Linked DNA regions of Homo sapiens: regions 1, 2, 3 and 5 are each linked to region 4. The links come from fine-mapping of genetic effects on gene expression. A gene starts in region 4. Each other region holds a variant in brackets. All regions are shown on one strand. Distances are from middle to middle. Region 1 holds the start of APBB2 (amyloid beta precursor protein binding family B member 2). Region 2 overlaps APBB2 (amyloid beta precursor protein binding family B member 2). Region 3 overlaps NSUN7 (NOP2/Sun RNA methyltransferase family member 7). Region 4 holds the start of NSUN7 (NOP2/Sun RNA methyltransferase family member 7). Region 5 overlaps RHOH (ras homolog family member H).

What was found.
Region 1: its variant is fine-mapped to the expression of NSUN7 in whole blood (INTERVAL, PIP above 0.99).
Region 2: its variant is fine-mapped to the expression of NSUN7 in whole blood (INTERVAL, PIP above 0.99).
Region 3: its variant is fine-mapped to the expression of NSUN7 in testis (GTEx, PIP 0.97).
Region 5: its variant is fine-mapped to the expression of NSUN7 in nasal epithelium (TOPMed, PIP 0.98).

Annotation. Positions count from the first base shown.
Region 1 is chr4:41,214,146-41,220,308 of GRCh38, forward strand. APBB2 (amyloid beta precursor protein binding family B member 2) reads right to left here and starts at 397. Exons shown (of 18, transcript NM_004307.2): 1 at 260-397. UCHL1-DT (UCHL1 divergent transcript) reads right to left here. Exons shown (of 3, transcript NR_102709.1): 3 at 5,929-6,163. RefSeq lists silencers at 1-81, 492-661, 2,279-2,328 and enhancers at 2,337-3,151, 2,459-2,708. The variant T/TCCTA (reference allele first, on the strand shown) is at 3,455.
Region 2 is chr4:40,818,109-40,824,271 of GRCh38, forward strand. It overlaps APBB2 (amyloid beta precursor protein binding family B member 2), which reads right to left. Exons shown (of 18, transcript NM_004307.2): 16 at 5,536-5,651; 17 at 3,763-3,942. Among named protein-coding and RNA genes, the nearest start is that of NSUN7, 71 kb to the left of the region's middle. The variant G/T (reference allele first, on the strand shown) is at 3,329.
Region 3 is chr4:40,808,112-40,814,274 of GRCh38, forward strand. NSUN7 (NOP2/Sun RNA methyltransferase family member 7) reads left to right here. Exons shown (of 12, transcript NM_024677.6): 12 at 196-3,073. The coding sequence ends at 828. It overlaps APBB2 (amyloid beta precursor protein binding family B member 2), which reads right to left. Exons shown (of 18, transcript NM_004307.2): 18 at 1,916-6,163. Among named protein-coding and RNA genes, the nearest start is that of NSUN7, 61 kb to the left of the region's middle. RefSeq lists an enhancer at 1-55. The variant A/AAAG (reference allele first, on the strand shown) is at 3,539.
Region 4 is chr4:40,747,231-40,753,393 of GRCh38, forward strand. It overlaps NSUN7 (NOP2/Sun RNA methyltransferase family member 7), which reads left to right and starts at 2,725. Exons shown (of 12, transcript NM_024677.6): 1 at 2,725-3,070; 2 at 3,373-3,761. The coding sequence starts at 3,464.
Region 5 is chr4:40,198,308-40,204,470 of GRCh38, forward strand. The region is part of intron 1 of RHOH (ras homolog family member H); the gene reads left to right. Among named protein-coding and RNA genes, the nearest start is that of RHOH, 4.4 kb to the left of the region's middle. The variant C/T (reference allele first, on the strand shown) is at 3,512.

The DNA.
Region 1 (6,163 bases), 470 kb after region 4:
GCCCTGCGGCGCGGGCGCAGGGCGCACGGGACTCCGCAGCAGGCGCCCCGCTGCAGATGCCGCGGCAGCTGCTGCAGGTGTGGCTGCGGCTGAGCGGGCAGCAGTGGCCGCGGAGCCCCGGGGCCGGGAGCAGAGGAGAAGCCGCCGGGGGAACCCGCAGCCGCTCGCCGCACGCTGCTGCCGCTACCCGGGTGTTTCCCCAGCACTCTCGTGCTGCCCCGGAATCCGGGGCAAAGGCAAGGAAGAAAGCTGGGCTCACCAGTGGTGCGCGCGGCGCTCGCCTCGGCTCCGGCGCCCAGCGGCTCTGCTCCAGTCTCGCCCTTCCCGGAGCGCCCAGATCAGATGCGGTTACAGCGCACTAGCTTCCTACTTGAGACCAGAACGGGCTCCGGCAACTGAGCATGCTCAGTGCCGTTCCGCGAGTCCCGCGCAGGGAGCGGCGCTGACGAGATTCCACTTCTCCAGGCTTTGGCAGCGGCTGCGCGAGGGAAGGCTGGAGGGACCCGGCGGGGAGGGGGCCGAATGGGAGAAAGGCGGGGCCGGGGGGTGGGGGCCGGGCAGAAGGAGGCGGGCCGCGCTCCCAGGGCGACCCCTGCAGGTGGAGGCGGCAGGGCCTGCGGGAGGCACCCTCCCCAATCGCCTGGGAACACGCAGGGAGGCAATGGGTCCCCCAGTAAGACCCAAAGGCAGGACGTGCAGTGCAGCCCGGGTATCCCCTCCGTGTGGCTGGTGTCTGTCTGCACCAAAAGGCAGTTGGGTTACCTTAGCCCTGGCTTTTCTCCCACACGCCAGCATTCCCTTGCAATAGGAAAATGTCCCCACAGGAGAGCTGCCCACACCCACCCAGGCTAACTGCAAGTTGTAGGCGACACCTTCTCCTTCCTTCTACCTCCTATCCCCACCCCCAGGCATATGCCGCACACACACTCTTCTTTGATCCGGAAATCACAAGATAATATCAGGGGAGAGATACAACTGCCGGAGAGGAAAAGGAGGTTTTCCTTTCCATTGCCAATAATATTATCTATAACTCTAATTGTAAGCGTGCAAACAAAGCCCTGATAAGAGTCGAGTCTCAGTAAACGGTAAACCGTGCTCTGCCCCAGACGCTGTGAATGACATCCCCAAAGTATCCTTAGGATTGCTCTTCACCAGGGCAGCGGTTGTCAAACTGGAGCCTGGATCAGAATCGCCTGGAGGGTTTGCTGAAGTACAAATCCCTGAGTCCCAATCTGTGTCTCTGAATGGGTAGATATGTGGTGGGGCCCAAGCATCTGTATATCTAACAAGTTCCCATGGGATGCTGATGCTGCTGGTGTGAGGACTATACACTTTAGAGAACCCTACCCATACACACACACACACACAGTCCTACCAAGGATCTCGAATTAAAAACTCACGTGATTCTTCCTATGAGGACTCTATGCAGTGGGGTGGGCATTACTTTATTCTTTCCTACATGAGTTTATTAAGGATCCACGAGGTCTTGTACTAGGCCTGAGGATAGTGGTGAATTTAAAAGCCCAGGCCCCTGCTTTCATGGAATTTATAGTCCGGCCGGGTGACAGACACCTATCAAATAATCACTCAAAACGGTTATTTCAAACAGGTAGAGTGCTGGGAGGGAAATGCACAAGGTGCGAATAGAGTGTATAGAGGGACCCTCATGCAGACTCAGTGAGGTTGTTACGAAGGGATGGGAGGGGGGCTGCCTTGTGGAAGGTGGTTTCTGACTTTTGCACTCCAATAACCTCTCCAATTAACAATTATCTCCCTCAGACCGAGCTGGAGGCCAGCAATCATGTCCCTCCTTCCTACAACATAAAAACAATACTGTCACAGAGAAATCCCTATAAATTCATGAAAAGTGTTTACTCTTGGGACTGAGTCTCTGCACCCCAAGATCCACCTAACACGTCCGTGGACCAAGGACAGTCGAGGGCCACAGTAGACCTCTTGGGGAAAATACAGGCTCTCTGAACTGGAGAGCCTGTGGTTCTTAGTCTGTGATCTTCAAGGCCAAAGAGGCAAGGAAACCAGCCCAAGACCACCATTCCCGTCAGGAGCGGAGATCGACCAGCCTCCAACCTTGCAGACGGGTCCTCTTTCCAAGGCACTCTATTCCCGGACCTCACAGCTCCCCTCAGATCCCCGGAACCCGGCCTGGCCACCCCGCTCTCTCTCGGGGGTCCGGGGTAGGTGAGCGGAGCCTGCCCCTCCCAGGTCGGTCTCTTCCCGACGGAGAGGAAAACCCGCGGTGGAGTCCGCGGCGGCGGGGGGGGGGGGGGGGGGGGGGGCGGGGCGGCGCGCGCAGGCGCAGAGGCCGCCAGGTTGGGCCGAGGAGGCGCCCTGCTCCACACCTGATGCAATCAGCCTTCCGGAAACGGGTCCCGCTGCCGCGCTCACCCAGGAAACACTTCCGCGCCCTCCTCTGGCCGCTGAGCTCCCGGGGACGGGTTCCCAAACTCCCCCGGCCCGACTTCGCCACGGGCGGTGTTCTGCGCCCCGTCGGGGATACGCCGGAGAAGTCGGGAAGTCACTGCCTGGGCACACAAAATCCCTGAAATGCCCTGACAGTGACGTCGAAACGGCCACCAAGCGTTGCGCAGCTGCAGGAGGAAATTCCCTTAATTATGAATTTACAGAGGGGACTGATCGGGGCCGGAGGGAAGGCTTTGACCCTTCCCTTGCTTCCTTCCTTCGTCCGCCTCCCAACACATTGTCTCTCTCACTGAAAGGAACGTTTAACAGCAGTTTTAAGGCAGTATGGAGAGGAATCTCCATGCCCTCTGTCTTGCTAAATATGTAACAGCACTTTAGCTTTGCTACATAAAGCTTTCCCACCGCGCGCTCATTTTATAAATACGTAATTGGTTTCTGCATACCTCATCATTTCAGTTTACAAAGAAAATCATTTCTCGTTTCACCACTTCATGCAATTTTTATATCTATTGTGAGTGGGTTTTTTTCTTCATGCTGACTCACCCATTAATTGTTTTCCAAGGAAATGAAATATCCAAGAATATTCCAAGAGCATGTTTTTTAAAGCATGGAAGTAAACGCTGTGAACAGTAGATAAAACTGACCTCTCTTAAGTCCCTTAAGGCCAAAGGTCCTCCTAGGGAGTTGGGGGAAGGAGGCAGATCCAAGGAATTTTATTTGGAAGGATACCTCAAGACCATTCTAGAATCAAATCAAGATCAACTCTTAGACTTTACAGATGACATTTACCTCTCTGTGGCCCAGAGAAATAAATGACTTCTTTATTTAGACAAACCAAAGGCAGAACTGGCACTTGAAGCCAGATTTCTCAAAATTCCAATCTAATGGGGAAAAAAAAATGTTTTTTGCACAAACACCGTAGGGAGTGCAATACTATATTACAATGCAGTTTTACAATCCAAAGATTACAAAATACAAAATAGGTGACAACAAAAGGGATCCTATTACTTGT[T/TCCTA]CCTGTGACGTCATTAGTCTTTAAATAGTCCATGATCAACAAATATCCAGCCACTTCTAAGTGGCATTGAATAGCCAGAGTCTAGGAATTAAATATTTCAATTAAACAGGTATGAGTCAGGTGCAGTGGCCCAAGCCTGTAGTACCAGCTACTGGGGAGGCTGAGGCAAGAGGGTACATGAGGCTGGACGTTCAAAGTTGCAGTAGGATCTTGCCTGTGAATAGCCACTGCACTCCAGCCTGAGCCACACAGCAAGACCTCATCTCAAAACAAAACAAAAAAAACAGTATAACTACAAAACATCAAGAAATCTTCTGTGCCAACATTAAGAACTTCTAGTATTATTATTTGATTGTGTGGTATATGTGCAACGGTTTGAGCTTAAACCAAGGGAATTTTAATGATCACAACAAAATATCACGGTCATGATTTTCTTCTGTAATGATTTTAAATACTTTAACAATTTAGTAATCAAAGTGAAATAAAAAACAACTCAAAACTCATGCCTGCAATAAGATAAAATCTAATTCTTCAAAACTCTGTCTACCTTCTTATCTTGAGGAATGAATTTCTTTTTGGAATGTTCTGACAGAGATCTGGAGGAACACCTTCTATTGAAGCAAAAATAGAGTTGAGTAAATGTCAAAATGCAGAGGTACAAAATACACACTGTCACACGGTACTAGTTTTAGAATAGCTAACTCTTACTGACTATTTAGCATGTGCCAGATACTGGCTAAGCATTTTCCATAGGTTATTTAACTCAATCCTCACAACTACCCTATAAATGAAGCACTATTATTATCCCTATTTTATGGATAGGGAAAGTGAGGCTTGCAAATGTGAAGCAGCTAACTCAAGGCACAAAATATTCATTGGCAGAACTGGGATTTGAACCCAGGCAGTTTTCCTGGAGCTTGAGCTCTTAAATAATACTATGTATGGAAAAATGTAAATACAGAGAAAATGACTATAATGATTCTCAGATAAGAAAGGAGAGGGAGTATTGTACTTACTCTCCTAAAGATAAAACATAGTAAAATAAGTTTGTAGTCCACACTAGGAAAAAACCTTTTGCTAGCTAATAAATTATGGTCCCCAAATATAGGACCAATATTACCCAGAGGTATGAGGCAGATGATCAAATATCGAGTGATTTTTCAGGGGTACCAGCAAGGCCTCTTCTCTGATGAACCCTCTACGCCTGACTGGTTTCTCTAGTCCTAAACCATCCAATATGGCAGTCACTAGCCACATATGCTTATTTAATCTGAAATCACTTAAAATCAGTTAGAATTAACTCTTCGGTTCCTCTTTCATACTAGCCACATTTCAAGTGCTCAGTAGCATATGGCCTAATGACTACTGTATTGGATAATGTAAGTAAAAAGCATTTGCATCACTGCAAAAAATTGTATTCAACAGTGCTGCTCTGGGCCTTAATGTCATTAGGGCAATCCTTTAATCTCTCTTCATACTGCACTATTCCTGGGAGGACCATGTTTCCATGGTCTACCTTCCCATTGAGCTTCAGTCCTATTTTTCCAAACTAAAATTATTATTAGAGTGTAGAAAGGTACAAAGAGGTACAAAGCATAAAGTCCCCTACTATCATGGAAAGAATAGGGGCACTGGAGTAAGACCTTATTTCACATTCCAGCTCTTAGTAGTTGTGTGACCTTGGGCAAGCTACTTTACCTCACTGAATCTCACTTTTCTTATCTGCAAAATGGGCATGTTAATTTTTTCATTATAGGTTTATTTAAGATTAAATAACATATGTAAAGCTTCTGGTAGGCCTCACATAGGATGATTTCCTTCCTTCCACTCCTATTTCAGTTAATGACATTCCCCAATTACTCAGGTTTCTAAACTAGAAATCTCAGTCATCTTCAATTCTTCCTTCCTCCTCAACCACCCGCATTAAATTAATCACCAAGCCCTTTTGCTCCCAACTCAGGAATGCCTGCCTCTCAAATGTGGGCCTGCCTCTCTGTCCTCACTGTCCACTGTCCTCACTGTCTTTTCATGCATATTTCAGAATCCTGCTAACCAACCTTGATGACACCCATCACTCCCAATCCAAGCCCTTTCTTCACACCGCTGCCAGAGTGATCCTTCTAAAAAAAGGTGCTGATGATGTCATTCTTCTCCTTTAAAACCGCTGATGACTTCCAGTTGCTTAAAGATAAAATCTTAACTACTAAACTGAAGGACACATAATCAAACTCCATCACTCCATCACTGCTGCTTGTTTGGTTGGTAATAAAAAGAAAATTAAAAATATAACAACCCTTATTCCATTTCAAAAATATATTTGGATTCCTCTACTACCAACCTCTTTTTTCAGCCACCCCGTCCCCAGCTCATACCTCTCCCTCTACCCAACCCCCACTACACCCACACGCCAGCAACTTATGCCCATGAGGCATTCCTGCAAGCACGTAGTGGCCTTTCCCGACTCTGCCCTTGCACACAAATCTCAGGCTGGACTAACACTTTTACATATTCTTTATCTGGCAGAATTTTACTTACTCTCTAAGGTCCAGTTCAGATATCACTTCTTCTATAAAAGCTCCTTCAACTCCTTCAGGGAAAGGTGGACACCAGCTCATCTGTGATGCCATAGATTTGAGATAGATTGTAGATGCCGTATTTGGGCTACCTGGGTTTAAATCCTGGCTGCATCACTCTCCCACTGCTAGTTTT
Region 2 (6,163 bases), 71 kb after region 4:
AGCAGATTCAAAAGAACGTTAGTGTCAATAGATATTCACATGGTATAAATTCACATACGGACCATTCAGAGGAGAATCATGCGGATTTGAACTAAGAAGAAAGCCCCTGAGCTAGAAACACTGGATTCAGAGCGGGCAGGAGAGAAGAATGGTTTGATTTTACTAGTATGCCTTATACTAGATTGGCTGAGCTGTGTCCACTCGTTGCAGTGATACAATTAAAATAGGAAGCAAATGAGTAAAAGTTGTTTCCAAGAGGGAAAATGAATTGAGAATCAGAAAACCAACTGTAGCCAAAGAGATAAAACTCATTGTCGTTATCACTTAAACGTATAATTAAGTCGGAAAGCCATTCATTTTATGACTAAAACCATCTGCTATGATCTGTTTCAATTTCATAAAATACCAAAATAGTTGTCATCCATTTTCGCTTGGCTGAAATCTCCCATTTTCTATTTTCTTCACAGATCTCCTTTATCTCATCAACTCCCTGTACCTGGTCAGTGGGTTCACCTGACTCCTCTACTGTCCCTGCTCCCCTGAACCCCAGCCCTGCTCCTGCATATTCAGGGTGTCTGAGTTAGAATCCTGGCCCTACAGTTCTTGCAGGGAGTTAGCCACTCTCACAGAGGATGGTGTAAGTGTGACACCAGATAACAAGTGTTCAACGCCAGGCCTCCCCTTCTCCCTCCTTCCTGCTCTATTTCAAATGATAAAGGTCAAATGCCTCTTTTCTACGCCCCACCTTTGCAATCTGCTCTCCCACCTCATCCTTTTAACATTTTTATTAGACATAGGGCCTTTCTATGTTGCCCAGGCTGGACTTGAACTCCTGGGCTCAAGGGGTCCTCTCATCTCAGCCTCCTGAGTAGCTGGGACTACAGGTGCAAACTTTCCCTTCATTCATAACCTCACAATGTGCTGTATGGGGTGGGGGGGCGGCGGTCAGAGAACTCCCTTTCCTTCCCCAAGCTCCACCCATTCTTGGTTCTTAGCATCTTCTGGACTATGTCAAAGTAAAAGGTCTCTCTAACTAATTCGTAGGCTAAGTCCCTCCCCTTGGCTCTCTTTTTTTTTTTTCTTTTTTTTTTTTTTGAGACAGGGTCTCACTCTTTCACACAGGCTGAAGTGCAGTGGTGCAATCTCAGCTCACTGCAACCTCCACCCCCAAGTTCAAGCCATCCTCCCACCTCAGCCTCCCTGAGTAGCTGGGACTACAGGTACATGCCACCACGCTCGGCTAATTTTTGTATTTTTTGGTAGAGATGGGTTTCACCATGTTGGCCAGGCTGGTCTCAACCTCCTGACCTCAAGTGATCCGCCCGCCTCAGCCTCCCAAAGTATTGGGATTACAGGCGTGAGCTACTGTGCCCAGCCTCCTCCACTCTTTATCTACCTCCATTTTCCACAAAAGAAAACCTAGCTGGGCATGGTGGTGCTCCCCTGCCGTTCCAGGGAGGAGTTCAAGACCAACCTGGGGAATATAGCAAGATCCCATCTCTTAAAAAAAATAAAATAAAATAAAAATAAAGAATAAAAAAGGGGCAGGCCTCTCCTGTCCTGAAATAAACACATGAACAAACCCTCCAATGCTGCCCTTCAAGCTCCCCCTCACTGGCAAACTTTGTAAGTTATCTGCTTTTAGGGCCTCCACTTCTTTTTCTTCCCAGTTACTTCTCAATCCAGCACAGTCTCATACTTATTTTTCTTATTTATTTTTTTGAGACAGGGTCTCGCTCTGTCACCCAGGCTGGACTACAGTGGTGCCATCGTAGCTCACTGCACCTCGACCTCCTGGGTTTGAGCCATCCTCCCACCTTAGCCTCCTCAGAAGCTGGGACTACAGGCATGTGCCACCACGCCCGGCTGAAAGTGAAGATCCTCATACTTTTATTTACAGCACTTTCTACACTGTAACAGAGTTTAGGTTTCTGTGTCTCCCCCACTATACCTGAGCTCTACAATGCAAGGACTGTATCTCAGTCATGCTGAATGCCCCAGATTCCAGCCCGTAAGTGCGAGGCTGAATTAAATGAAGCCCAGGGGCTTCACATGCAGCAGTTCTCCCCCAGCCAGGCAGCTCGGTGCTTCTCAAAGCCTCTGCTCCTGTTTGTTCCCAACGCTGCTCTCCTAGCGTGGACGCTCCTCCTCTCTCCCATCTGCAGAAGGTAACTGGGCTCCTGGCTGATCGCCACCTCAGCCTTGTTCCTCCAACCTATCCTCTACTTGGTTGTCTTCTTTTTTTGCTGGATACTCGTCTAAAATCTAAATACAGGCTGGGTGCGGTGGCTCATGCCGGTAATCCCAGCACTTGGGAGGCTGAGGCGGGTGGATTACCTGAGGTCAGGAGTTTGAGACCAGCCTGGCCAACATGATGAAGCCCCATCTCTACTAAAAATATAAAAAATTAGCCAGGCGTGGTGGCAGGTGCCTGTAATCCCAGCTATTTGGGAGGCTGAGGCAAGAGAATCACTTAAACCCAGGAGGCGAAGGTTGCAGTGAGCTGAGATCGCGCCATTGCACTCCAGCCTGGGCAACAAAAGCAAAACTTCATCTCAATAAATAAATAAATAAATAATCTAAATACAATCAATTCAATCCCCAGTTTAGCAATCCTTGCTGAAGAAAATCAGGCCCCCACACGCCATCATCATAAGCCCGCCATGATCTGGACCGCACCTCCTTCCACTCGGGCCCAGCACCCAACCTGCTGCTGCTGGAACACACCTGCCCACAGGCTTTGGTGCCCACACTCATATAGCTCCCTCATTTTTTTTTGAGATGGGTTTCCCTCTTGTTGCCCAGGCTGGAGTGCAATGACGCGATCTCGGTTCACTGCAACCTCTGCCTCTCAGGTTCAAGTGATTCTCCTGCCTCAGCCTCCCGAGTAGCTGGGATTACAGGGATGCGCCACCACGCTGGCTAATTTTGTATTTTTAGTAGAGACAGGGCTTCTCCATTTGGTCAGGCTGGTCTTGAACTTCTGACCTCAAGTGATCCGCCTGCCTCAGCCTCCCAGAGTGTTGGGATTACAGGCGTAAGCCACCACCCCCGGCCCAGTTCCCTCATTTTTATTAGAACTTTTGCAGTGTCTGGCATAAGAGGGGCACAAAGACACATGCTGAAGGAATAATGAGGGATTCTTGTTTGTTTCCAAGTATCCATGTGGTATAAAGAGCTCTGACTTTGTCACCTGGCAGCTTGGGGCTGAATCCAGGCTCGGCTCTGTCACTTACCGACAAGCCCTGAGGCCCATTCTCTAACTTCCCTAAAGTCTCTATTTTCTCATAAATAAAACAGAACTAACAACTACCTAACAGAGTTGTCG[G/T]AAGGACTGAGTTAACAGATATAAATAAAATATATAAGAACGGTGTACAGAAACCAATCACTGGAAACAAAAGTCATTCAATGTATTGATTTTTAAAGTACTGAATTGAACCCAAACAGTACCAACTCATACACGACCAACATTTCACACATGAAATTGATTTGGGATCAAGGATTGACCGTCGTCAAGGTGGTGGTTATGAAACTCATCGGAGCCTCTATCTGGCCCCACTTCTTTCAGGAGTTCTGGCCTTTGGAGATGTAATCTGTTTATCATAACTGATTCTGGCCCTAGGAATGACGGCGTTATAAAGTAAAGCATTACTTTAGGGATTCGACTTTTTTCATTTCCGTGAGTGATTCTGCTATAATGTATGGCATATTAGAGATGAGCAGAGGCGGGAGGGCTCAACAGCCTGTACCGGGATAACTCACCATGCAGGCGGCCTGCACCGCCTCAGACACGTTACCAGCATTAGGCTCGCACCAGAAAACGTGGCACTCAAAGCGCTGGTTCCCCGTGTCCATGATGAAGGCAAATGTGTGGACGTCCTTCCCAACACCCATGAAGGACAGGAATCGCACACGACATTCCACTAAGACTTCCTCTTCATTCTGCAAGAGACATTATGCGGCATCCAATCAGGAGATCCCAGGATCAAGCTTAAGAGTGGCAGCACATAGGAACTGGCATTCAGAAAGTATAGCCAGGCCGAATTCAGAAAGGACCTGTGTTTTTCTCGAAAGGCGGAACCTTGCCCAAATGTCTGAAGAGGCCATCACTGCATGGCTACCCTGTTCTGGAGGTCATTCTTGCTCTGAACTACACTGCTGTCATGGGGTGTGATGTGGGTCCCATTCTCCATTATGCTACGTGGCTGTGAGTTCACTGTGGGGAGGGACAGTGCCGTCCATACTTCTTACATCTAGCCCAAATACAGGACACCTGGTGGCCCAAAACCCATTTGGCCAAGTAAACCCCCAGAGCACCAGAAAAAAGGGATTCACGGTATCTTTCTTCGTCCAGTGATTCTTACCCAAACTAAACAGCACACTGAATCACATTTCCATCTAAAACCATATAAAACAAAAAGCTGCCAAATCAACAAAAAGTTGTCAAATTGTTTTTTTCTTTTCTCTCTTGCAAACTGGTGTCCATCTGGGATCCACATGAGGCAGCGTAAAGAAATGTTCAGAATTCTTTCTCATAGGGATGAACACCACATCCTTTGCAAGAACCATATGCAAGTTTTGAATTAATAAACACATCCAAAATGTTGACTTTTGGATCATTAACATCTTGACTAATTAAATATTCACTCTAGTGCCTTGGGAGTGTTTAATGAGCAAAGTACACTAGTGTGAGAGGTCGGGAAGTTTTCTCAGGAGGAAGGAGGCTGTGGTGGTGATCTGGGTAAGGGTCGGGTAGGCAGAGGGTGGAGCATGGAGGGTGCAGTGCTTGCGATGATGCTGGTGTGGGGAAGGGCGGGACCTACTTGAAGAGGTGAGGAGAGCTCAGTGTGGCCAGCTGGAGGCAGGCAGTGAGCACCCTGCTCCTCTCTCCAGGGTGAACCGGGCAGCTGTGGGGCAGGCTGATGACTGGTGGTCTTTCCCTGGCAGGTGCTTCACAGAGGCAGAATAGAAAAGTGGGCACAAGTCTGGGCCAGGTTGCCTGGATTTAAGTCCTGATTCCATTGCTTCCAACTGTGTGATGCTGGGCAAATGACTTAGCCTCTCTGTGCTTCAATTTCTTCAACCACGAAACTGAGATAATTTGGGCTGAGGCTAATGTGGCCTCTTCTCAAGACAACCAATAGCTCCTTCTGCTACTGATAGTCACAGGACTCTCCCAAATGGAAGCATCTTCTGCTTTTCATCCCCAGATCACACAGCCCAGGCAATACTGGCGCCCTGAGAGTGAGCGACTACTAGCGTCACACACTCACCTCTAGCAAACAATTTCTCTCTGGGGCACATGAGGAAGACAGAATCAGAAGCACCAGAAGAGAAGTTTCTCAGGCCACAGGAAAACAGAGGTATGCACAGATTTAGACCCAGACAAAGGGCCAAATCTTTCAAATGTAGGCCATCTTAATCACAAGGATGCACAACTCCGGCCTTGACTATGTTCCTAAGTTCCACAGAAAACCACTGTATCTTATACTCACTGTATAAGACACACCAATGTCATCGAAGATTCCTTCTCACCTTTTCACTGATGACAGTCACAGTGGCATCAGCCACGTTCATGTTCACTGACAGCCAGTCCTCCTTGTTGGATGAGGTCATAAGATTTTCTATGGCACTGTTCAAAATATCCATTCCTGGGGACAGAAAAGGATAATTTAAAGTGTCCTAAAGCCACTTACCACACTCAAATGTGGGCCCAAATCACCAATAACAGCTACGCCCAGACTGATCTTTTTTTAATAGACAGGACACTTCATTCTCATGTTTGCTCAACAGGAATGAAATACCAGCTTCTGGCCGGGCGTAGTGGCTCACGCCTGTAATCTCAGCACTTTGGGAGGCTGAGCCAGGATCATTTGAGGTCAGGAGTTCGAGACCAGCCTGGCCAACACGGTGAAACCCTGTCTCTACTAAAAATACAAAAATTAGCTGGACATGCTTGCTTGAACCCAGGAGGCGGAGGCTGCAGTGAGCTGAGATCGCACCACTGCACTCCAGCCTGGGCAAGTATCAGTGAGACTCTGTCTCAAAAAACAAAAAAAGAAAAAGAAAAAAAAGAAATAACAGCCTTTTCAGTAGGAGAGGAGAGTCAGGAGAAGCTCCGGGGACCTGGTGCCTTAGACGCTGTCTACCTATGCAGACCATG
Region 3 (6,163 bases), 61 kb after region 4:
TTTTTTTTGTTTGTTTTTTTAAAAAGGCATTCGCTGAGGCTTATGAGATTGGGGACTAAGGCCTAAAAACTATTTCTTATTTCTTTTAGTATAATAAAGAGAGTCTTTTTATTTTTACTGATACATTGATAAATATTTGCGGGAGACACAATAATAGCTAACTCCCACATTTAGTAAATGCTTCTTTAATTGCAGCGGGACCCTTCTGAGACAGTGTCTGTGAATGATGTTTTGGCCCGAGCTGCAGCCAAGGGTCTGCTGGATGGGATTGAGTTGGGTAAATCATCAAAACGGGAGAAGAAGAAGAAAAAATCAAAAACATCATTGACAAAAGGTGCCACTACTGATAATGGCATCCAAATGAAAATTGCTGAGTTCCTGAATCGAGAAACTAAAGCCAGTGCTAATCTATCAGAGACTGTAACAAAACCACCTCTTCCCCAGAAAAATACTGCTCAAGTGGGGGCTTCCTCACAGACCAGAAAACCCAACAAGCTGGCCCCCCATCCTGCAGTGCCTGCATTTGTGAAGAACACTTGTCCCTCCAGACCGCGTGAACGGCAGACACACTTCTTAAGACCTCGGCCAGAAGACAGAATGGTTGCTCTGAAACCCATCAAGATTGTTCTGCCTCCAGTCTTTATGCCATTTTCAAGTCCCCAAGGGATCAGATCTCGGATGCCAACTCAACATTTGTACTGTCGTTGGGTTGCACCCAAGGCACTTGTGCCCACCTGCCTTCCCACACACTCACTATCCAGAAAAGAGGAAAAGCCTAAAGATGACACACCTTCCTCCCTACTCAGGCCTCCTCGGCGATGGCTTTGATTGTCTTGTGTTTTTTATAGGGGCCAAAGAGCAGTTGATTTTTTTTCAAAGTCTAGTATTTCTCTGAAGATTCTACATCTCTACACAAGATATTCATTCTTTTGGTCACCTAGGGATCTTCTAAGTGTGATATTACTTTCAGAGAATTCAGACAAGTGAGAAACAATAATGTAGGAGTCAGCAAAGCAGAATTCAGAGACTTCAGCCAATCACTGCTGCTCTGAGAGGATCCAGTTAGAGACTCAGTATCAGCGGTCAGAACTTATCTCACTCCTGTGAACTTTCAGGCTGGACTTAAAGCTGCCAAGTTTCCCCTGCAGGGAAGGAAACACTGCCTCCCTTCAGCAGGTAGCTCATTAGAAAGCCAAACAGGCAAACGATCCTGGCCTCTCCCGCCAGCTGACCGCTCTTCAGCATCCATGCGGTTGTAGTCGTGACTTTCTCAGTCACGATCAAGGGTGATTTTTTCTTAAATATCAAGCTGTTCTTTGAACAGGGAATGAACATGAGTTTTTGTAACGTGACTGAAGTTGAGTTTAAGTAGGAAGCGCAGGAAGTTCCCAAGTGCCAGGTGTGTGTAGCTCAGAGTTCCTTTTACAGTGAGGTGTCTCTCACTGGGGGAGCTTCCAGGATCCTGAGCAGACTGGACACAATCATCTCTCCCTTCCTCTATGTCAAGCACTGTTACAAAAGACTGTGAGCAAATTTCCATCTAAATATTAATAATTCTGAAGAAGAGGCAAAACTGTTGAATGCAAGCGATACCTATTGTTGAAGAAACCCACAAATTTCTGATTCTAAGATCAGGGGATACAACAAAATCTACAAGTCATTTCAAATAGCACACAGGAATCAAACTTTGGTAAATCATTTCTGAGGCACAATTAAATATATTGTAGCACTATGTTAATTAATTATATTAAATGTCGATTCATCTTGAATGTATTCTCAATTGCCTACCAAAAATTGGTATGATTATCATTTCTGGGTCTACTGATTTTTCATCATGGCAACAGAAATTGTCATTAAATAGAATTAAGATACAACTATATATCTTATTATTTAAAAACATTCATAGACATATTCATAAAGTTTGAATTTAAAGTTTTATTTTTGCAATTCAGTTGTATAGAAATGTTACATAAATTCCTAAATGCTCAATTCAGGTGGCATGATTTTTAGAATATTATCTTCTTCAAGATGAATACTTAGGTCTACTTCAGCTCTGATATTCTATTTTTACTTTCTTACTTGAAGTGAGAAAAGAGAATGGTGAATTGTATTATAGCGGTAATACATTATTTTTATTTTAGCTTAGATTTACATTTATCAGTAAAACGTGTCAGTGGGCTGGGTGCAGTGGCTCACATCTGTAATCTCAGCAGTTTGGGAGGCTGAGGTGGGCACGCCACTTGAGCACCGGAGTTCCAGACGAGCCTGGACAACATGGCGAAACCCCAAAACCCCATCTCTACAAAAAATACAAAAATTAGCTGGGTGTGGTGGGACACGCCTGTAGTCCCAGCTACTTAGGAGGCTGAGGTACGAGGATCTCTTGAGTCCAGGAGGTGCAGGTTGCAGTGAGCCAATATTGCCCCACTGCACTCCAGCCTGGGAAGCAGAGTGAGACCTTGCCTCAAAAAAAAAAAAAAAAAAAAAAAAGTGTCAATGAAGAAAGGAAACAAGACTTTTTATAGTTGAACCAGGCTTATTGTATTTTAAATCCCTGAAGAAGAATTCTTCATGTTATCACTCTTGTACAGAAAGATATAAAGTGCTCAGCTTATTTTGCTGATTTTGAAAATCAAACACTATCTCCTTGCCCTAAAATTATAGCGTGTGGCTCATCCTCTTATCCCACCCAGATTTCTATCTGGTTGGTTAGGGTAGTCCATGCCTCAAGGAAGGCGGTGCAGCTTAATTTAACATATTGTTCAGTAAAGAATCCCATTGTGTATCATAAGAATCCCTTATCCTTTTCGGGCCCTCCACCATACCAGACTGAAAAGTATTCCATTGTCCAGAAGTAGCTGGTCTTGAGATTTTTATTTTCAAGTGTATTTTCTGTGATGTTGTCTCATTGTTATGGAATAGTTTAGGATAATTTTCTGATCTCTACAGTAGCATGTGAAGTCACAATTTGTTGCCACTTACATTGATTATCTCCTAACATGCATTTGGCACTAAATTATTTTTCTCTTTAGAAGTATATGAAGATTCTGAATTAAACCATTCATTAATTACACTGCAGTTTTCTTCTTTGAGAATCTTCTATGAAGGACAGGATTATTTAAATACTTTGGTAGAGTGAAAAGGGAAAAGAATTTTGGATAAAAGCAATATGAGGCCGGACGTGGTGGCTCACATACTTTGGGAGGTTGGGGCGGGCGGATCACCTGAGGTCAGGAGTTCGAGACCAGCCTGGCCAACGTGGCGAAACCCTGTCTCTACTAAAAATATACAAATTGGCCAGGCGTGGCGGTGCATGCCTGTAATCCCAGCTACTCAGGAGGCTGAGGCGAGAATTGCTTGAACTTGGGAGGTGGAGGTTGTGGTGAGCTGAAATTACACCACTGCACTCCAGAGTAAGACTCCTCTGTCTGAAGAAAAAAAAAAAAAGCAATATGAGGGAATTCTAATGAAGGAGAATATTGATTCCACTGACATGTTTCATTTGGCATTTTACATTCTTGGACTTCTTCTTGAGATA[A/AAAG]AAGTGCTGCAAAATTCTAAATAATGAAATTACTAGTATTCAGATACTCCAATAGCAAACACATTTTTAATCTGAAATTATTTACCACCATATAATGCCTGAAACCATAATGAAATTTTGTTACTGACTAGAGAGAAACCACTGTGGAAGTGCAAGATGAACAAAAAGCGGGGACATACTTTAAATTCTGTTTATCTGCCTTCCTGCGCCTAACAGTTAAGCTAAACCAGATTCAACTGATTTCTCTAGTTACCTTTCATTTTGGATTTAGTGTGTGTACACCTCTATTCTTTATTCTTTGATGTCAGGTTCTTAAAGGAAGTGATAAACTTCTTCGTGCTAAAATATCACAATCCTAGCAAGACCGCTTACAAAAGACTCGAGTTGGTGACTAAATAGGCTTCTATGTCCGGAAGGCCAGCTGGCCTTCCTGATCACCAAATAAGTACAGGGTGATTACTCAAAATTTGAAGTTACTTCCTAGTTCTTACCAGGCAGAAATATGTAGTAACTAATCAAAGCAAAATGCTCCATTACTAAAGTGATTTCTAAGAAGTCTGAGGTAAGAATAATTTAAAAATAACTAGAGACACCGAGTTTCTATTTCTATTCCTTGTATATGTGACTAAGATGTCAGATAAATGAGCCGAACGTTTTATGCAGCTAAATTTATTCTCACAACAAATTACATTTAAATGTGTAAAAGTGGTCAACAGGAAAAGGGCATAAAGGAAAACAAAGCGTTCTTTCAGGGGAAGTAAGCTGCTCTGGAGGCCAGGAACTACTGCTTGCGTTGACACGGTGTGAGTGGGTATCTTTGCCCTGAAGCTGAAGTTAAACTTTCTACTGGCCGTGTGGCACACACGTTAGATGTGTATTAGGTTAAGCCTGGCCAACTAGAGAGCGAAGGGGCTTATTAGTTAAATTGTGCTAATATCAGTTAGGAAAATGCTTGTCATGTTGTGGTGAAATCTTGAGGAGTTTGTGTTGCAATGCCTGGGACATGAACGGGCCATACAAACAGAGGAAAGCTCTGGGGCTTCCAGGCAATGGCCTTGTGTCGAGTCATCTTACAAGTGTCCATCTTGAAATCATAAAGTGGATTTAAAAAGAAGTAGCAGTGCCACAGTTTATCACCAAGAACTTATTTTAATGGAAATGGGTCTAATGTCCCTTCATGCAACAAGACAGATGAACAAAAAACAATGGTCCTAATTAGCTATGAGTGATCTTGTATCCAGGTGGAAACAAAGGGCATGTGTACATGTATATATCTCTTAGATGAAATCACACATGTTGTGAAGGGTAGAAAAACGAAGCACCAAGCAGTGCTTTAGTCTGCAAAGGAAAGTTTTTAGCCATAGGCATGTTGGCTAGTCGTTCCCCTTGATGTTGCCAAGGAGCAGATGTATGAGGTGGCAAGTCTGTGTCTATCTAGCTGCTTTTAAAAAATAAAAGGAACTTTAAGCATTTTGCCTTTTCTTCTACATATCCCAATAGAAATGTGACTACAAATCATTACAAAACCACTTTTTAGGCAATGTATAGTTCACTGAGATTACTTAGATCTGGATACACTGGGAGATAATATCCAGGAAAGATAATACATTAACACAATAATGCAGTATATTTCAGTAAAAATAGAATAAATAAAATAAAAATATTTTAAGCTGTATTTAACAGGTTAATTAAAAATATGGTAAGACATAGAAGGCATCGTGAACATGGCTGCCTGTTTACCGAATCACAGATCTAAAGAATGCATAGATAACTGAAGTGTCACTAAGATATCAGGTAAAACATTGGCATCCTTTTACAAACAAATACACACATACTTTCATACATACTTTTTGGCCATGGCAGAAAGTGTCTGAACATACTCTTTAACATAATTTTACAAAATTAATTTGCATTTACTATACAATGCCATTTTCAAAACAAAACGTCTGCAAAGTTTTCAATATGTAAAGGCTATCATTCATCTTAATGCATCCTATAATTGCACATATAAATCAGTTTGCTACTTAAAGCTAGCTCAGAATTCTTGATCTTGAAAACAAGCAAATGTATGCCTTAAAAAATGAAGAGGGAGTTCTGGTAGAGATTTCCAATATAAAAGTGGGTAATTTGTTTAGAATTTTGAAATTTATCACACTAAAATGTTTCACTACAGCGACCGAGATGAAAGATCACTGTAAATGATTTCTGAACAGCTTTTCAAAGGGCACAGCAAGGATTTTCTTAATGCAGTAATTTCTTATGATGGCACTGGTTACTTCAGATCAGTAGTATGTCAATTGGTGAAAAACAGACTGCGTTTCTAAAGTAGCATAGTTTTGTCATAACATTGGGGTGCTAAGACAATTCCGGTCCCCCTGTCCCCCACCCCTCATGAATTCTGAGGGAATGGCAGGTAGAAAAGCCACCCACTCATTCCATCATGATCTCTGGTGGCTAAGTACCATGAGTTAGGAATGTCTACCACAAGTAGCATCTGGAAAATCTCGTAGATGGAACAGGCTGTGAATGTAGAATCCTGCCCTCTACAACACTTTTGAGGCACGCTGTAGGAAAACAGTCCTGGACTTAGATAGGGCACCATCATGAATACCACTGCGTAAGGAA
Region 4 (6,163 bases):
TAAGATTCTTTATGTTTCTTATGCTTTTTATATTTCTGTAACAGGCTTCATTGGAACTGGGCACCGTTTTATATTGTCTAGATCAAATTGATGCAAGTGAGCAGATGTATTTTGAATATTCACATGCCTAACATATACTAGTACTCTGAGTCAAATGCAAGAATGTTAATTTACAAATATCTTAAATATTCTACCCCCTGGGGAAAGAAAAATCATTAATTTCCTTTGGCAGAAAGCCTCAGGTACATTTTGATTTTCTCCTCATGTCTGATTTAATGCTCTGGTCATATTACAGAGTGTAACTTAAACAAAAACTACATTTTTTTTTTTTACTATCCTGCTTTCACAACAATTGAACTCATATGCCTGTCTCTATGGTTACTTTTTTACAGTGTTCACTGAAATTTAATATGCTCTCCTCTGACCCTCCCCTCAAATACATTAAGTCCACAATGAGGCTATAAACCAGGAGTGAGAAGTAAGGAGGCAGGATTATATACATGATTAAAGTAAATAGTAACCATGAATTTGCTAACCCCACAACTCTTTGCCTAAGCTCTACCTTGGGGATAGAGACTCGTTAAACCTTGTTTTCAATATAGTAAACTGTTACTTACATTGAACTATTATTAAAGAAAATAAACTCTTCAAATTATATTTTGAATGACAATATTTCAAAGTTTATAGCTAGCTATTGCCTCACATCACTGTGTACTGGGTGATGCATGATAAAATATATCATGACCTCTAAGACACCTTCCATATTTGTAATCTTCTGTGAATGTCTGTATGTGAAAGAGAGTGATATTTTGCTAGCATCTGGGAATAAAAAAGATATATAATAAAAATGAAAAGATAAAGATAAAACAAGACTATTTTAGAGTGTGTGTGTTGTGTGGATAGAAAGATGGCAGAAGGGGGGTAATGCAGGTATGTACACGAATCTTTATAACAAAAATGAAAAGGTGACAAAATACAAATATATCCATCTTTAATTTCTTGAGGGCAAGGTCTTTGATCATTTCTTTTTTTTTTGAGACGGAGTCTGGCTCTGTCACCCAGGCTGCAGTGCAGTGGCCCAATTTCGGCTCACTGCAACCTCCGCCTCTCGGGTTCATGCCATTCTCTGGCCTCAGCCTCCTGAGTAGCTGGGACTACAGGCGCCCGCCACCACGCCCGGCTAATTTTTTTGTATTTTTAGTAGAGACGGGGTTTCACCGTGTTAGCCAGGATGGTCTCGATCTCCTGACCTCGTGATCCGCCCGCCTCGACCTCCCAAAGTGCTGGGGTTACAGGCGTGAGCCACCGCGCCCGGTCAGGTGTCTGATCATTTCTATACATTCATTATTTTACTTGTAGGGCTGAACACAATGCCAGGGACACAGCAAGAATTTAATATATACTTGTTAAACGAACGAATGAATGCATGTATACATAAAATGTTACGGAATGTTTAACGTATTCCGGGGATAATGAAAGTGGGTGGATTTCTGAGAGAAGGGGTCAGGGTTAGAGTTCTGTACTGCTAATTTTTTCCCCATTATCCATTCTCTCCTTCTTCTACAGTAATAGTTCCCTTATTTTTAGCTGGACACATTTACCAGCCTCTTGGTTGCTGGGTATATGACTGAGTTCTGACCAATAAAATGTGAGCCAAAGTGATATGTGCACCTTTCAGGTCATTGAAAAATATGGGCTGCCCTCTCTTTCCCCTTCATCCTACTAACCACTGGCTGGAAATGGAAATGGCCTTAGCCTAAAGAAGGAAGGGCAAATCCCTAAGGAGGAAAGGCAGAGGTGGAATTAGGACCAGTTGTCTTTCAACTATACCAGAGTTTTTCAAACTGTGGTCTTTGGGCTGATTGCATCAGAATCGCCAGTTACCTGATAAAAATGCAAATTACTGGGTCTTAGCAACTCAAATCTCTAGGATGGGTTCCAAGGATTTTTTTTTAGCTGGAGGCGGTGGTTCACGCCTGAAATCCCAGCACTTTGGGAGGCCGAGGAGGGAGGACTCCTTGAGCCCAGGAATTCGAGACCACCCTGGGCAACATAATGGGAACCCTGTCTCTGTTATTAAAAAAAATTATTACAGACGGCGCAGTGGCTCACGCATGTAATCCCAGCACGTTGGGAGGCCAAGGCCGGCAGATCACTTGACGTCAGGAGTTCGAGACTAACTTGATCAACACGGTGAAACCCTGTCTCTACTAAAAATACAAAAATTAGCAGGGTGTGGTGGCGGGCGCCTGTAGTCCCAGCTACTCGGGAGGCTGAGGCATGAGAATCACGTGAACCCGGGAGGAGGAGGCTGCAGTGAACCGAGATTGCGCCACTGCACTCCAGCCTGGGCGACAGAGCGAGACCATGTCTCAAAAAAAAAATTATTACTATATTTTAAAAATATTTTAAAGAATGTGTAGTTTTAACAGGGACTTCAGGAACTTGTGAGTTAAAACCACGGAACTACGTCAGACTACCTCAAAAATATCCCCAAATGTTTATAAACAAAGCCAAGGGCACGCACTCAGGCCCGGTGAGGTCCAGGAACTGTGCAAGAGGCCTCTGGCTCGGAGGGGCTGAAACAGGTGTCTCCGCGCGCTGGGGGAAGAGCGACTCTCCCGGCAACAGGTAGCACCCGCCAAATCCCGCGGGAACGGCCCTCGCGCCGCGCCCCCTGCCCCACCTCCGCTCGCGGTTGCCATGAAGACCCGGTCCGGGAGCAGTCGACTGCCGGAGACTCGGGAGGCTGAGCTTTCCTCGGCCTGAGCCAGCCAGACCCCGGGCACCGCGCTCACCCCTCTTCGCCGCCACGTCCGCGAAGGCCTCACGCGCGAGGCCAGGCGAGGCCCCGAGGCGCCCACCACTTCACGACACCGGAGCGAACCGGGCGCCAGAGGCTGCGACCCCCCTGCCCCGAATCCTGCCGGTGGGAGTGGCTGCATTTGAACCAAACGGCCTTCGCGGGCAGCAGCCGTCGCCCCGCAGTCCCGGGGCTCCCAAGGGCCTGTGACCGACGCCGCCCTCCGCGTCTTCGTCCCCGAAGCCCCGGGAACCATCCGCCCTCGGGGTAAGGGAGGAGTCGGGGGAGCCGGTGACTGGGCTGTGGGGACGCGGACGGGGCTCCGGGGGCAGCTCTGCCCCCAGACTGGCTTGAGGGAAGCCGTCGGTCTCCTTGGGGCTCTTCTCCCTCCGCCGCTGCACCCCTCCTCGCTTTTTTTTTTTTTTTTGAGCGTCCCAGGCTCGAAGTCTGGGACACTCAGATGGGACGGGAAATGCTCCCTCTTAGTCTTTAAGGCCACAACGAAGGGGGCCACCCACAGGGGTGCTGCAGAAAGAGTGATTTACTGCAATCACCTTCTCTCTTCACAGAGACCATGCTGCAGATGCGAGGAAAGCCGTTTCCTGGAACATCGGAATTCTAACCCCAGGGTGAAGGACTCACGACAGGCGAGGGGCAGACATGCTGAATTCCACGGGCGAACTGGAGTTTTCGAACGAAGAAGATCCCGAGATCATCTCCCAACTCACTTCCCTGCCTCTGTCCGGTGGGAAAAGCTCAGCTGGTGTGCCCGAAAAAACGGGCTATCCGGACTCCGTTTATGTCATGGCAGCCAACATTTTTCAGGGTATTCGAATCGAAAAGTCGGCACAGAAAGTCTTAATCAAGTATGGGAATGAACCCCTGCGGTCCTTGTCCGAGTCTGAGGATCAGTCCTTTCAGCGTTTGTCTTATGAGCTGGCTTTCAGTGCCCTGAAATGTGAGTTGTGCCAGTCTGGAAGATCAACACTAAAAGAAAATAATAGCGAGAGAATTTGGGGAATGCAGCCCTCCTCCTCCCTTCCCCTCATTCACACCAGGTTTTGGTTTTAGGCATGTGCATATCTTTGGTTAATTGCAAGTGTCAAGGAATTAGGGTTCCCATGAAACTAGCTCTTCCAGCCCAGGATTGCAGATTTCCCCGTGCACTGTGTTTGTCCTTAGATCGGTGTAGTGCGCGGTCATTACATTCAACAAGGAAACAATTTATTCCAATGATCATTTCCCTCTCCCTGTATTTTTTTTTCCCTCGTAGACTTAGGGGTCTCGCTTTATTGTCTGGGCTGGTCTCAAACTCTGGACCTCAAGGAATCCTCCCTCTTCAGCTTCCCAAAGTGCTGGGATTACAGGCAGTGAGCCACCACGCCTGGCCTCCCTGTGTATTTCTTTCCATTCCCTGTGTTTACCTTTTTTGGTATTTTAGTTTATGAGCTTTCACAAATATAAAACCAGTGAGGGAGGATGGGGAGAGGAACAGAGACGGAATAAAAAGAAAAGGTGCAAAATTTAAAAAATGAATATCAAAATTACACCAACCCCAATTAAGACTATCCCATTCATAGCCACTAGCTTTAATGGGAGGAGCCAAACTTTAGTAGAACTTCCCTTTCTAATTTGCTTTCAGGGTTTGAGACTCAAGGATGGTTAGTTATCAATCTGAGGCCAAGGGTGGTTGCTCAGGCCTGTAATCCCAGCACTTTTCGAAGCCAAGGTGGGAGGATTGATTGAGCTCAGGCGTTAAAGACCAGCCTGGGCATATAGTGAGATCTCCTCTCTACAAAAAAAAATTTAAAAATTAGCCCAGTATGGTGGCACATGTCTTTAGTCCCAGATACTTGGGAGATTGAGGCGGGAGGATCGCTTGAGCCTGGGAGGCAGAGGTTGCAGTGAGCCAAGATGGTGTCATTGCACTCTAACCTGGTGACAGAGCAAGACCCTGTGGAATTGACACTAGGAAATGACCAAATATTGCTACTATGAGGAGAGCAGTCAAAAGGCTTGAAGTTGTTTGTTTTCGTACTAGCTGTGACTAAAAACTTTATGTTGGTTTGTAAACTGATTGAATGTAGTTCCAAAAAGAAGTTCCAGAAATGTTTAGAATATTAGCAGCATGGCCAAAATGATGAGCAGAAGCCTTCCTAAAGAGACACCTCAAAAAGGGCAACACTCTTTTGCATGATTTTCTTAGTACTTAATGAGCCTTGTACATCCTTGCTCGTAGGAGGCAGTTAATTACTCAGTTCAGCCAGATGCGGTGGCTTACACTTGTAATCCCAGTACTTTTGGAGGTGGAGGTGGGACGATTGCTTGACTTCAGGAGTTCAAGACAAACCTGGACAATATAGCAAGACCCCATCTCTATTTTTAGTTTTATTTTCTATTTTTTTGAGATGGAGTCTCACTCTGTCGCCCAGGCTGAAGTGCAGTGGCACAATCTTGGCTCACTGCAAGCTCCGCCTCCTGGGTTCACGCCATTCTCCTGCCTCAGCCTCCTGAGTAGCTGGGACTACAGGCGCACGCCACCATGCCTGGCTAATTTTTTGTATTTTTAGTAGAGACGGGGTTTCACGGTGTTAGCCAGGATGGTCTCCATCTCCTGACTTTGTGATCCACCCACCTCAGCCTCCCAAAGTGCTGGGATTACAGGCGTGAGCCACTGCACCTGGCCCCCCATCTCTATTTTTTAAAATTAAAAAAAAATGCTCAGTTGAATTAAAATGTCTCACTGATTATTTAGACAGGAATATATATTTTTGGTTGTCTGCAGAGAGTCTCTTTGTTTTTTGTTTCTTTGTTTTCTCCTCAGTAATTTTTCTTTTCCTTTTAAGTCCGTCTTAACCATTCTTCCTCCAGTTTAATCTCTGAGATTTTATTTCATCCATCTTCTTCCCCTCTCCCCTAACCAAAGTGTTGTATTTCATGCAATGAATCAAATGAACATTTTTATACTTTTTTTCTCGCAACAGTGAAATGCAGACTGGGCAGCTGTGTTGATTAATTGGCATTTAATGTTAATGCTAGAATTTTATTCTAGGCAATTTGTTCTCCTAATGGAATATTGAGTATTACCTTTAGTACTCAATAAGAAAAGCCTGAATTATAATTCTATATAAAATTAATGCATTAACTAAATGATTGTATTACAGTGATATGTGTGATAGATTATTATTTTTGTCCTCTCCCTCCTATTTTCTATTTTATGAAAGATCTTGTAATTATTTTATCTTTCTTTTTTTTTTTTTTTAGACAGAGTCTCACTCTGTCACCCAGGCTGGAGTGCAATGGCACAATCTAGGCTCACTGCAACCTCTGCCACCCAGGTTCAAGCACTTCTCTGCCCCA
Region 5 (6,163 bases), 550 kb before region 4:
CTGACCTGGAGATGATAAGGCCAGTTGAAGAGACACTGGAGAAGAGAAGACAGTTTGTTTTACACATTGCAGGAAATCAGATTAGACAGTTAGGGTGTGGACACAAAAGCGAGGACCTTGCAGGCACTGGGGAGAAGTGACCCCATTCAATAGTCCTTGGTCTCCTTCTGCCCTGCGGCTGCGCTTCCTCGGCTCTCACGGCACCAGCAGAATTCCATGTGAGAGGGAGCTTGTCGAGCGTGGCCTCTTCCCACTTGGGGCTGCTTTCTGCATCCCTGTGCCTGGCTGTGGGCCTCCATTTGCCCTCTACTGTCTTCCCTTAGGACATCATTTATGCAGAGAAAGGTTCGTGTGGCTCGGGGTACCAGTAAGACCTCCACCTCTGGTTTCTTCATTTTAAGGAGGCCCTTCAATTATCCAGGAATTAAAGTGGCCTTCCTCTTGGGAGAACGAGTTGGTTGATGAATGATAAGCAAGTCTCTATTCCTCAAAAGCCAGTCCCCAAATTCCATGAAATATGTGCTACTTTCTTTGCATGTCTAAATGAGATGGCACGGGTATGCTTCTGTTCTTTTTCTGGACGTTGTTTAGAGAGTCAGTAGATCATAATAATTCAGACACTTTTTTTCTGGACCATAAAATATCTGAACCCATATAATAACAAACATACAGCACGGTGAATAAGAACCCAACTTTTGAGCCAGATCACTTTGCATGGAATCCCCATTCTATCATTCTATCATTTCTGGGCTGTGGGAACCTCAGACAAGTTACTTAACTTCTTCAATGCTCAGATTAAAAAAAAAATTCACAAAATATCTCTAATAACAGTAATAATAACTGAAAATACCTACCTCAGAGGGTTGTCGTAGAGATCAAATGAGATAAAAATATGTAAAGCATGTAGCCTAGTGCCTGACTGAAAAAAAAATCTCTCAATAGATGCAACTCTTATGATTCTTATTAAGGACTTGGCTATTGCCACAAATGAAGGTGTTATGAGCCCTGGCTTAAGAGCAAGAAGCCTGCAAAGCTAACTCTCCTAATCCCAACATTCCTTTCCAGGGAAAGTAGGGTGACAGGTGGAGGCTGGGAATTAACGTTTTTTGAGCACCAAATATGGACAAGGCACAGGGGTTGGGTGTTTTTCTAGTGAGAATACATATGAAAGAAGGAAAACAAACTTGGAAACCGCTATTTTAAGCCATTTGGTAACAGTTTCTCTAGCTTATGAGATGAGAGAGGTCCTCTCAGTATCCGCTGCATTACTTGTGGGCCTCCTTGGTTGACGTCGCTCTCTGAACGCTTGGGGTGGAATTCTAGAGGTGCTTTTCATTAGAGGCAGAGAGCATGACCTTTCTTCCTTGCCCAGTTTAAATTAAATTATTTTATCTTACAATGTGTTAATTTTAGTGCTAGCAAGGCACAGCTAAAATTCCATTTCTACTTAGGAGTGGGGATCATTGTGGCAGTGAGTGCTTATTTGGGTTTGGGATGCTTGGATCTGGGTGAAAGCCAGGATTAAAAAGCATCCTCCTTCCCCATTCCACTCTCTAGGTTATAAATATTTTTTTGGATTAAAAGCCTCCTTTAAAAAAATGCAAATCCACCTGGCATGTTAATTGTGCAGGGGATTCCTAATTATGTGTGCAGATGACGTGAGTCACACGGTGATAGTGTTCCTTCTAGAGTCCCACTGGTGTCCTAAGGGAGGAGACTCTGGAGCTTTGTGTATGAAAAGGGATGGGCACAAGTCAGGATGGGGTGCACAGGTGGAGGCTGGGAGGCAGCATGACAGTGTGGGGGCTGGGGTGGGCTGTGAGAGCAAGGAGGGTGTCAGAGATGGAAAGGATGACCCCAGGGGGGTGGAAGGGTGCCAGAAACTTAGGGCTCCTCTGTGAGCTCTTTAGCCATTTGACTCTAGCAACTGCTTGAATGCCCTGAACAACCTTTTGACGACTTGCACAAGAAGTTGTCATACTGTTCCCCGGATGTGGACAGTTGTTCAGAGACCACGATCATGTGTCTGGTGTCTCACTGTGGAATAGTGGTTTCTAAAGCTGGCTGGACAGCAAAACCACCTGGGGAGCTTTTAAGAAACTGAAATTCCATGTCTCATACCCCAGCCCTCACGTGAGGTCCAGGAATCTGTGTGATTAAAAAATACAAGCCCCAAAACAACTTGGAAAGTGGTCGTTTTGCAGGTGGGGATTTAGGAACCAAGAATCCAGAACTCTCCTACCAGGGCCCCAGAAACCGTAAGTTGAATAAGTGCTGAAATGAGGCAAATTGATCTACTCTCTATTGTGATTAATATCTTCACACAGCAAGTATTTTCCTTTGTTTTGAGTTCATTCCTTGAGATGAGTTATCGGGAGCGGGGTGACTGGGTCCAGGATATGAGGATGTTTAGCTCAGTCATACCCGCATTTTAACACGCAAACGTACGGTGCCGCTCATTTAAAAACCAAAGTGTTGTATACATGTAGAAGCTATATATTATTCCGGGGCAGCCCAAAGAGGGGATGTTGCTTTCAAGCGAAAGCACCAAATCACATTCTTTTCTGGTAAAATAGAATACTAATGAATTGCTTTTGGAAGAAATTTCCAGAGCATTACTGAATGTTCAAGTGCTTCTTAGAGCACAAGTTGAACCTTTCTTATCTCTGCACTCAGTTTCTCGTAAAACTGAAGTCACAGTGACCTCTTCCCCATTTCGTAGAAAAGAAACCCAAGGAAGAGAGTGGTTAAGAAACAGAAGATACGGTTCTCATCACATTTGCCTGAGAACTACGTATAGTCATCCATTCAGTGCCTCGTTAAGTAAATAAATGATTGAATCATTTGTATACATGACCTCATGGAAAAAAGCACGGTAAAATGAATGTTTGAGGGTGGGTAGACAGAATTATTCAACCCGGACAGGTGTTAGATGTTCACTCTATCCCCCCCTTTTTTTTTGCATTAGGTTTTATTCATTATTTGCATCATCTATGGACCTAAAAGCATGCTCATTGTCACACAGATGGGAACAGGGTGAATTTTCAATGATTTCAATGAAAAAAAAAAAAAGATGTGCTGTTGCAAAATATCAAGGGAGATGTTTACAGTGGTGTTCTAGAACCGGCTTGCTCTCAAGTGCTGATTGTAATATTTTCAGAAATTTTCCAAGCCAGTGACATTATTGACTTCTCTTTATCTGTGTGATGGAAATGCTATATAATATTGTGCTATCTGAGCATCTGTTTTCAATTTTGCATTCAGCGATGTCATGATGGTGGCTTGAAATTGGCTATGGTAAAAGTACACTGTGAAAATCAGCAAACACAATAAATCAGGCTCCCCACCTTTTTTTTTTCGGGGCGGGGGGCAAGCATGTTGTTAAACGTTTACTAGCATGCTACTGAGGAACTGTGTAAAATACAAATATGGCAATTTGACGATATGTATCAAGAGCCATTAAAGTGTTCATACACTTTGATCCATTCATTCCACCCCTGGAAATTTATTC[C/T]GAATAAATAATTCAAAGAAAAGTAATATGCATGAACATATTCACTGTATTATCATTTATAGCAGCAAAATCTGAAAATACCCTGAACACTAAGCAATAGGAGTTCTGGCAACATTAACTCCATGAGTTTTTTTTTTTTTTTTTTTTTTTTTAAGACAGGGTCTTGTTTTGTCACCCAGGCTGGAGTGCAGTGTGTAATCACAGCTCACTCAGCCTTGACCTCCTGTGCTCATTTGATCCTCCTGCCTTAGCCTCCCAAGTAGCTGGGACCACAGGCGTGTGCCACCACACTTGGCTAACTTTTTTTTTGTAGAGACGGGGTCTCACTTTGTTGCCCAGCCTGGTCTCCATCTCCTGGGATCAAGTGATCCTCCTGCCTTGGCCTCCCAAAGTGCTAGGATTACAGGCACGTCACTGCGCACAGCCCATGGGTTCTTTTAAAGTCATTAAAAATCATAGTTATGATGGTTATGAAAATATGTTTGATATGATGTTAGGTTAGAAAATCAGAATTAAAAATTTTAATTACATTCTGATTTTGTTGTGAATAAGAATTAAATGTGAGCCGTAAAAAAATGAATGACAGCATTTGGTATGTTAGAATGGTGAAATAGTAGAATTTGTTTTTATTTTGTTTATTGTAGTCGTGGTGTGTGTTCATTTAAGAAATTTGGAGAACACCTGTTAATAAGTGATCTTGAGTAGTTTTAACATTTAGGAGGAAGGCTATGAGTTTTGTGAACCACATGGGGCTTTACCTTTAACCGGTAGATGTTACTGTGAATCCCTGGGCAGGGTATTGTAAAGGGAGTTTGGAGCTAGGCAGTGTGAGCTGTGGATGCTAAAGGGGTTTCTTTAGAGCAGCTTAAGGAGGAGGAAGAAGTAAGTAACTGTGTCCTGAGGACTTGCTAAAAGTAGACTGCAAGGACTGAGAAATAGCCCAGAGAAAAACTACCATCAAAGGCCAGAGAGACAGGCGAGAGAAGGTTTCTTAGGAAGAGACAAGGAGACGCTGATCTCAGAGGTGAACAACATGGATAAGAAATTAACTCCATTTTGACCTGAAAAAAATAGGGGCTGACACCAGAAAGGAAATGATTTTTGTAGAGCAATGGTTCTCAAGTTTTATTTATTTATTTATTTTTAGTTTTTTTTAAATTTTTTATTTTTTGAGATGGAGTCTCGCTCTGTTGCCCAGGCTGGAGTGCAGTGGCATGATCTTGGCTCACTGCAAGCTCCGCTTCCCGGGTTCACGCCATTCTCCTGCCTCAGCCTCCGGAGTAGCTGGGAATACAGGTGCCCGCCACCAGGCCCCGCTAATTATTTTGTATTTTTAGTTGAGACGGAGTTTCACCGTGTTAGCCAGGATGGTCTCGATCTCCTGACCTCGTGATCCGCCCGCCTCGGCCTCCCAAAGTGCTGGGATTACAGGCGTGAGCCACCGCGCCCGGCCAGTTCTCAAGTTTTAGTGTGTTTAAGAATCACCTGGATGAGTGCGGGAAGAGTTAACTAATTTAGCATCCAGGTTCCATCTCCATGCATTCTGATACGGTTGGTCTAGAGGTTGGCAGGAATATGCATTTTTAACAAATCCTCCCACCCTATGAAGACTCTGATGTGAATTGCCTGCAGATTACACTTTGAGAAACACTAGTGGAATAAATGCAACAGTTTGGTTTTGTCCAGGGAAGGTATATCTGTGAGTGTGTGTGTGTGTGTGTGTGTGAGAGAGAGAGAGTGTGTGTGTGTGTGTTGAAGGTGAAGCCGCTACTTAAAGGCTCAGAATTGAAGGACTTATAATGTAAAAGGGGAATGAAAACAGAGAAAGCCCAGAGGGACAAGTTATTTATTTGTTATAGAAACAAACAGCAAAAACCAGGAAGCTGTACTTACGATATTCCTTAAAGGAATATAGTTTGTGGCACAAAATCCTCTTCCACAGTTAAACAATTTTGTCCAGCACTTGAACCAATTAAAAGTAGCTGTGACTAGGGGAACTATGAGCACAGAGAAAGATGGTCATGGGGAGAGTCTGGGACCCATAAACATTCTATTTCAGGCCATCGAGCGGTGGTTATTAAACCCGTGGTAGAATATGGGAGTGCTACGGACAGAAAACACTCTGGACCTTACTGTATGATAACATTATGTTAAAGAAGAAAAGAAAGTATATTTTTTGATGAAATGTAGTATTTTATATACAGAACTCAGCACTCAAAATAGTAATAACAATTAGACTTATGCCACAACAACATTATATCACAAAATAAACATATGAAAGTGAATGACATCGCAGTAGCCACTGTTCTGAGATTATCTGCTTCACCTGGCTTTGGAAGTTTAGTGATTGTAATAGCTTTCAAATAGCCTTCAATGTCTCGTGCTCTTCTTAAAGTGGAGATGATTCTTTTACTTTAATCACATTCCCCATCGTCAGGGCCTCTGATCTCTTGAGACATGATGTGGTAAATCAAGGATAAGTTAACAACCCATCTTCACATTGGAGGCGCAAGTCACAGGGTCTGTCGGATGTGCAAGGGTCTAACGCCTGAAATCAGACCTCTTTCTACAAGCACGCGCTGACTATTCTATTCCCCACCTAACAGGGTTTTTCATGGACTGATTGGCTTGTGCTTTGGAGCAATGTTTCCT